Regions from separate parts of the Homo sapiens genome. Here region 2 is linked to region 1. Evidence: fine-mapped expression QTL. Tissue or cell type: fibroblasts. Region 1 holds a variant in brackets; the other region holds the start of a gene. All regions are shown on one strand. Distances are between the middles of the regions.

Region 1 (4,392 bases):
TTAAAAAGCATGTGGTTAATATCAATTAGTAATTAATATATAAGTAATAGACTGTAAATATTAAAAATTATAAAGGTATTGCACTTTCTAACTCTACCCTTTGGCCATGGGAATTAAATACATCTAAATTCTGTATTTAAACATTGAAAAAAGCTCAGATGACTTGAATCTCTAGGTTTTACAAATCTTTTATAATTTTTAAGAAAACCAGAGTTTTACCTAAACTAAGCAGAGATTTCCACAAGTATATTAATTATTCAATCAAAAAAAAATCAGTGTACCAGCCCTTACAAGCTAAAACCCACTTCTATCTAAAAATGACCAGTCATTGGAATTCTCTCGGAGAATGGCAAGAAACTGAAGCAAAATAAATAATAAAAGCAATAAAAATTCAAGCACTTTGGCAAAATAGATAATTCACAAATATTTTACCCTTCTAGAGTTCTGTTTTAAATTTCATATAAAGTATTCCTTTTGAAGAAATTATATTTGAAATATCAATTCTATTTCAACAATTTTCATTACAAAAATAATTTTTGCATAATGCAGTTATTTTTCTATTCTATCAAATGGTCCAAAATACCACCACAATGTTTATGTATTTACAATGAATATTTTTTAACATGCTATTTTCTACAATGAATGATTCTCCCACTCTTACACTCATTGTTTGACGTGGAACAAGATGAGCAGAGAGACAAGGGGAGCCATCCTGAAACTGGGCTATTCCACAGACCTGCTCCTTTGAGTCTTAATATCCCAAATACACTGCCAGTATCATCCAAACTTCTAAAACAGAAAATAACCCAAGAGTTAGCAAACAGCAGGAAATTTCCCTTTTGTGATTTAGTAAGGAAAATTTTCCACTTATATTAGCACCTGCCTGAGTTACAATACTAAATACTGCACTTTTAGTTCAATGGTTCTAATCAGCAAAAGCTGTTCAAGAGCCATGAACTTTATGTATTTATTTTTTTTGAGACTGAGTCTCACTCTGTTTTCCAGGCTGGAGTGCAAAGGCACAATCACGGCTCACTGCAACCTCACTCTCCTGAGGCCTGGGTGACCCTCCTACCTCAGCCTTCCAAGTAGCTGTTTGTTGTTAGATTAGATTTCTGGTGGCTGAGTCCACAGATGGTCACAATGTGTGGCTATGGCTATGCGTTATAGCATAGAAGGAATAGCCAGATGGTTCTAATGCCTAAAGCTTCCTTTTTTGCTTGTCCCTTTTATAAAGCTTGGTTCTTCAACCTCACTGTCAATTTTGTAAGCTAAGAGTAACTTTCCGACAAGTTTATTTACACCTAAGTTATCTAAAGTCATTTTTTGTTGTTTTCAATTGAGGAGTTTAAGTCATACAGAAAGTGTGAATAAGGCCTGGATTGTTGGCAATAGCATCTCAGGAGAATGTGGGGATTCTGAGACTTATTATCTAAGTAATTGGAGGTTGAAGGCAGTAAAAACCAGGCATGAGACCCTGCAGATTTACAGTACACAAGGTGGCAAAATAGCAAATCAAATTAGAGATTTTTTGGCACTTAAAATAGTATGCTCTTTAAAGACAATGTTTTAGAGTGTCATGGTGAATTTTCCAAAGAACAGGAAGACGGGTAAAAAGTCAAGGCCTAGAGTTTGTCTAAATAAGTGTAAGCAAAGGGAACAGCGAGCTCAAATCCTTAAATTCTCTTCTTGAGACAGACAAAAGTTTAGCATTTTTCTATCATGGTCCTAACAGTATCTCCTATGCCCCAGGGTAATTAAAAATTGAATTCAAATTTAGATCCAGGTGGCCCCTAATTGAATTTATAGATCCTCCTGGTAACTTAGGTTAAACATATGATCTGGATTAAAAAAAAAAAAAAAGGAAAATAATTCCAAGAATGTGAACTTACTGGAATATGCAAAGGACTCCAAGAACCTCAGCATTTCAAACACCCCCTAAACTTCTCTGTGTATTCAAAACCGGCTCCCACACATACCACACGTATCTGATGAAATTATTTATCTTTTCATTGAAGCTACAATTCCTTCCTTACATGAGTGAGCCGACTTTCAAACAAGAACCATATTAGCATTCCTACTTCATTGCCGGTAATATACAAACGGGGTTTGAAAAGCAAGAAGCAACTACTTTAAATATCATTGAAATACAGGTTGGGCACCGTGGCTCACACCTCTAATCCCAGCACTTTGGGAGTTCAAGGCGGGCCGAGCACTTGAGGCCAGGAGATGGAGACGAGGCTGGCCAACATGGAGAAACCCCGTCTCTACAGAAAATACAAAAATTAGCCGGGTGTGGTGGTGCACGTCTGTAGTCCCAGGTACTAGTGAGGCTGAGGCACAAGAATCGATTGAGCCCAGGGGGAAGGAGGTCGCAGTGAGCAGAGATCACTCTACTGCACTCCAGCCTAAGCGATACAGCGAGACTCTATCTCAAAAAAAAAAAAAAAAAAAAAAAAAATATATATATATATATACATATATATATATATATATATGCCAGAGGGAGATAAATACCATGAAAATACAGGGAACAATATTTCAGAAAAATTTCAGGGAGTCCAGTGGCCTGGCACCTGCCGGGATATCCCTCCATTTCTTCCGCTACTCCTAACAGCAAGTTCTAACACCAAGTGAGTCCCTTCTGCTTTTGGAGGCAGTGTTTGCTACATTTGAGTACACTGCCATGAATCATTTACCCATGTCTC[CG/C]AGAGGCTTCCAGCTTTAAGCACGACCCTGGGCAAAAGAATCTTTTCCAGATGAGTCAGGAAATAGTATTGGTCATTTTGCTTCCTGACCTTTATGATCTAGCATATCCAATCATGCTCAAAGAATCTGTAATGGGTCAGAAGACTCAATGGAATCCATGGCATTCCTGGATAAATAATAATAATAATAATAATAAAATAAATAAAAAAATTCACAGCGAAGGCATCATAGTTTAAGGCAAAAGTATGCCTTTTTCTGCTATTGTCCTTTCACTAAGTGGCTCTTAGCTTTCTACTACGCCTTGGTGAATAATAAACATCTAACTGTAAAGCCATAATTGAGCATACAACTTAAAGAGCACATTATAAACTAGTGCTATCATACCACACAGCTTTGAAATTTGGAATACTCCATGGTAATCCATCATCAGGTCAAAGTGTTATATGTCAAACCAGGCATTTGATAATTCTCATGTCGTAAACAAGTTCTTTGAACGAGTGACTCACAATCCCTTATGCCTATTCCTGATACTCTCTCACTACTCTCTCAAACTACCTATGCCCTCATCATTGCTCCCTACTAAAAAATACTAAGGAGAAAATAATACAGTAAGATCCTACAAAATATACATGCACCAGCCTGAAGTTCCATGCATACAGTAGGAACTCAATAAAGATTAATTGACTTGAATTGAATAAAACTGTTTGCAATAACTTTATAATTTCATAAGCTCCATTTTCTCTGATAGAGCATTATCTTAGTTTGTTTTGTGCTATTATAACAGAATACCTGAAACTGGGTAATTTATAAAGGACAAAAATTTATTCCCTCACAGTTCTGGAGTCTGAGGTGTCCACGATCAAGATGCCAGTAGATTAGGTCTCTGGTTCCAAGATTGTGTTCCCTTGCTACTCTCTAGAGTGAAGGAATATTGTGTCTTCACATTGTCGAAGAACAGAAGAGAGGGAAGCCACTCCTATAAGTTTTTTCTATAGCTGCATTAATTCATTCATTAAAATGGAGTCCTCATGATCTAAACACCTCCCATTAGGTCCCACCTCCCAACACTGTTGCACTAGGGATTAAGTTTCAACGTGAGTTTTGGAGGTGAAAAAAACATTCAAACCACCACAAACATATAGAAGAAAAACTCTTTCAGAGGGCAGAGTTTTGAAAACACCCCTCATCCATATAGCCTCAGAGATGAGTCTGAATAGATTTATGAAGACTGATTAATGGTTTGGCTAGAAAGAAGAAAATTGGAGGTTGGTGATGAAAAGTTTCGGAGAACAGATATTTGAAAGGACTCTCAGAATGAGCACAGATATCAGCATATCAGCTACCTAGTAGGAGGCTTATTGTATTGAATTCCACTCACAATGAAAGAAGAGCAATTTGTTCTTGCTTAATATCCTTATCCTGGGATTGATTATCTTTATTTGTCTCTCTCTCCATGTTATCATTCATGGATTTACTAATATCACAGGTCATCTATGTTTTCCAGAAACACTGATTGCTATCAAGAAAAATTGAGTAATAGATGGGCTCCCCAGGGGTTCACTAGAGCTATCACATACCATGTCATCATCCTGAACAGAGACTCTTATGAAAAGTTGGAGAAGTTATTTGAGGACTCAGTTAAAGATCAACTAACAACACCTTGCAAAGTTGAGATGTCCTGTA
Region 2 (4,392 bases), 61 kb after region 1:
TTCTAACCTACTTTTACTAATTGAATTTTTAAAGCCCATATCCAATTTCCTTTGTGGGAAAATGGGTGGTACTTTATTTTATAAAAATAGTTTTTGTGACCATTTTGGAATGCTAACACTGAAGACTTTTATTGATAATTACACTAGAATTACTCTAGATACATCAATATAGAGGCTGGTCACTTTTGCTGTTTCTCGTCTGTGTCTTGCTACCAGGATGTGGCCAGGCGTGAGGTAATATCTCTAATTATCTGTTAAATCTAGTTTTGCAACCACAGATATGATATTCTTACCTGATCAAATGGAATTAAGGTTAGGCCATGTTTCAGGCATCCTTAGGAATACTAAATAGCTATTAAATAACAAGAACCCTTTGGCAAAGCTTTGTAGTTTGCCTTTATGATATCCTTACCGGTCCCCCAAGAGTAAACTATGCAGTGTTTTATGTTATAAAAAAATTGTGGTCTAAATTTGCAGGTTCCAGTATTCTTTCTGCTGCTATGTGATCTTGGACAAATCTCTTAGCCTCTCTGAGCCTGAGCTCATGCTTCAATTATCCTTGAGTTAAGAGCACCTATGTGTATTTGATACCCACACTTGTGAATTTCAAATGAGCCTTTGCATGCAATAGAGATTTGTCAGCTGTGACCTGCTGCACAACTGTCACTGTGAAAAAAAATCATCAATTCTTTCCCTCCCTCCTTCTTTCCCTTCTTTTGTCTTCTGAACGTCTAGAATATAGCACAGAAGAAAACAATAAGGAAATCAGTAGTTCAGAATCAAAGACGTTCTGCTAAAGAAAGAGCAAAAATCAAGATTCAAAGTACCTCAGCACTCAAAGAAGCAGAAAATTCTAATAGCTGCAGGCAAATTGTGCCCTCTGAGGAGCCTAGATTCTAGAAAAAAGGAGAGAGCAGTCTTGTGAAAGAGGTGAAACAAAGGCTTTTCATGTACTCCGGAATTGCTTGGAGACTGGGATATAACCCTGGCAAAGTTATTAAAGTTGATTTCTCTAAAGCATTTACTCGAAAGGGCCACCTAAGGATAACTGGCTAACTGCCCTTAAATTACATTTATTTTTAAAAACATAGTTTGAAAAAGGTTAGTAACCAAAGACTTACAAGACCAACCTTTTTTAAAAAAGAATTTTAAAGGCTGGTTCATAATATGCAAAGGAAGACTACACATTTGCTTGCTACATTTAAGTTGCACAGTATAATATATAGCTTTTCTCCCTCCTCTGGGTTATTTTGAAAATATTAATAAGTTGGATGTCTATTCCATATTTTCAAAGTGGTTATCAATGACTTTTACTTAAATACTTGTAAAACTTATTAATGCCACTTTAATCTCAGTTTACTGCTTAAAGCTTTAGATATCCATATTTTTTTAAAAAAACTATTCTTAAAAAATAGGTAACTAAATTTAATAAATAATGAAAACAATGACAAAATATTCAATGAGGAAAAATGTTTATCCCCATATTGTGGCCAGAACGTTAAGAAACTTTTACAGGACGAAGTCTGCCTGGAAGGGTTTGCTTGGGAAAGTGGTAGTTTATAGCATAACATCTGATTTTGTGTGTTTGTGCCAAGGGTGTTTCCTTTCTGTCTTTTTCCTTTTTATAGGCAGCCACAATAGTGACATGTTTAATATTGATGAGTTTGACCTCCTGGGAGTTATCGTATATGCACCCTTTTTGAATACAAATGCTGTTTAATTTATATGGTAAACACATAGAATTTGGAGACTAGCATTTTAATCAACACTAATCTCAGTATTTTCTACTTCTCCTACCTCTCCTTCTGTCAACAACAACAAAAAAATCACAAACCAATTTTATAAATGACAGCTAATGTCCTCTCCTGGAGAAGCAGGGTCTGTGTGTGAAACATAAAAGCAGCACCATGTGTAGTAACCTCTCCTAAACCATATGCTCAAGCACATTAACAGTGTTCAATTAGATGATCAATTATTCAAGAAACAGAACAATCCATTCATTCAACAAATATTTATTGAACAGCCATGCAGAGGCAGACAGGGGGTTGTGTATGTGGCTGTGACCCGATGGCACCTCTAAACTGGAATTGGGCTTCAGTTTTTCTCCGTGTAAAAATTTCTTCTTTTTTATTTAACTTTTCTCTTGGCAGGTCCAGCAGCTTTGAAGATCAGAGTGCATCTTCCAGCTGACGATCTCTTCGGTCGGGGACAATGCATTCGATTCGCACGGTGGAGATTAAAGTCCCCGAGATAGAGGAAACGTTTTTCGCGCCCAGGTTCAGCGAGGAGCCGCGCGGGGGCAGAGGGGGCGGCGGCGGCGGGCGGGGAGCCAGGCCCGAGCTGCGTTCTGCGCAGCCATTGGTGGGCGCCGCGCTCTGCACTGAGCATGTTCGCGCCCCGCCGGCCCCTAGCCGCAGCCGCAGCCGCAGCGACGGCAGCCACGGGAGCCGCCGCGCATTATGCAAAGCGGCGGCAGATGCGAGCGGGGCCAGCCGGGCGCGCGTCGGCCTCCCCTCCCAGCGGCTCCCCCCGCCGCCGCCTGACTCTCCCGGGAGACTCCCTAGGCCCGGACCTGGGGCCGAGGAGGGCCGGGATGGCCTGAGTGCCCGCGGCGCGGCGGCGCAGCAGCGGGATTGCACCATGGGGAACCAGGATGGGAAGCTGAAGAGGAGCGCAGGTGATGCTTTGCACGAAGGCGGCGGTGGCGCCGAGGATGCGCTGGGGCCCAGGGATGTGGAAGCCACAAAGAAGGGGAGCGGGGGCAAGAAGGCGCTAGGCAAGCACGGCAAGGGGGGAGGGGGCGGCGGCGGCGGCGGGGAGTCGGGCAAGAAGAAGAGCAAGTCCGACTCCAGAGCCTCGGTGTTTTCCAACCTGCGGATCAGGAAGAATCTGTCCAAGGGGAAAGGCGCCGGCGGCTCCCGCGAAGATGTACTGGATTCCCAGGCCCTGCAGACCGGGGAGCTGGACAGCGCTCACTCCCTGCTCACCAAGACTCCAGACCTCAGCCTCTCGGCGGACGAGGCCGGCCTGTCGGATACCGAGTGTGCGGACCCTTTTGAGGTGACCGGTCCAGGGGGTCCTGGGCCTGCCGAGGCTAGGGTCGGGGGCCGGCCGATCGCCGAGGATGTGGAAACTGCAGCAGGGGCGCAGGATGGACAAAGGACCAGCTCGGGCTCGGACACGGACATCTATAGCTTCCATTCGGCTACGGAGCAAGAGGATTTGCTTTCAGACATCCAGCAGGCGATCCGCCTGCAGCAGCAGCAGCAGCAGCAGCTCCAGCTCCAGCTCCAGCAACAGCAGCAGCAGCAGCAGCTCCAGGGCGCCGAGGAGCCTGCAGCGCCCCCCACTGCCGTCTCCCCTCAGCCCGGGGCCTTCCTGGGCCTGGACCGGTTCCTGCTGGGGCCGAGCGGCGGGGCTGGGGAGGCCCCGGGCAGTCCGGACACCGAGCAGGCGCTGTCCGCGCTCTCCGACCTGCCCGAGAGCCTGGCCGCCGAGCCCCGGGAGCCCCAGCAACCGCCGTCCCCCGGCGGCCTCCCGGTCTCCGAGGCGCCCAGTCTCCCGGCAGCGCAACCCGCGGCCAAAGACTCGCCCTCCTCCACGGCTTTCCCATTTCCCGAGGCCGGGCCGGGGGAGGAAGCGGCCGGAGCCCCCGTGCGAGGGGCTGGGGACACGGATGAGGAGGGTGAGGAGGATGCTTTTGAGGATGCGCCCCGGGGCTCTCCGGGGGAGGAGTGGGCCCCGGAGGTGGGAGAGGACGCCCCGCAGAGGCTGGGGGAAGAGCCGGAGGAGGAGGCGCAAGGACCTGACGCCCCCGCGGCCGCTTCCCTGCCCGGCAGCCCCGCGCCTAGCCAGCGCTGTTTCAAGCCCTACCCGCTCATCACCCCCTGCTACATCAAGACCACCACCCGGCAGCTCAGCTCGCCCAATCACTCCCCGTCTCAGTCCCCTAATCAGAGCCCCAGGATCAAGAGGCGGCCGGAACCCTCCCTGAGCCGAGGGTCCAGAACTGCCCTGGCCTCCGTAGCCGCCCCGGCCAAGAAGCACCGGGCCGACGGCGGCCTTGCGGCCGGCCTGAGCCGCTCGGCTGACTGGACGGAGGAGCTAGGCGCCCGCACGCCCCGGGTGGGAGGCTCCGCGCACCTGCTGGAGCGCGGGGTGGCGAGTGACAGCGGCGGTGGGGTGTCCCCAGCACTGGCCGCCAAGGCGTCTGGGGCCCCCGCGGCTGCGGATGGCTTCCAGAACGTGTTCACAGGTGAGCGCGCCCTGCTGCTGGCCTCCGGGTCTCAAGTCGCCTGTCAGTCAGGGCCTTCCCCTGCCACCCGCCCTCCCTGGGCTCTGGAAGGCGGTGACCTGGTAGTGGCACATCTCTTCTCCGTAGGGAATCCTTTT

Evidence for each region.
Region 2: it holds the start of FMN2, and the variant in region 1 is fine-mapped to the expression of FMN2 in fibroblasts (GTEx, PIP above 0.99).

What each region holds. Positions count from the first base shown.
Region 1 is chr1:240,028,477-240,032,868 of GRCh38, forward strand. No RefSeq gene overlaps it. Among named protein-coding and RNA genes, the nearest start is that of FMN2, 61 kb to the right of the region's middle. The variant CG/C (reference allele first, on the strand shown) is at 2,709.
Region 2 is chr1:240,089,470-240,093,861 of GRCh38, forward strand. It overlaps FMN2 (formin 2), which reads left to right and starts at 2,414. Exons shown (of 18, transcript NM_020066.5): 1 at 2,414-4,255. The coding sequence starts at 2,641.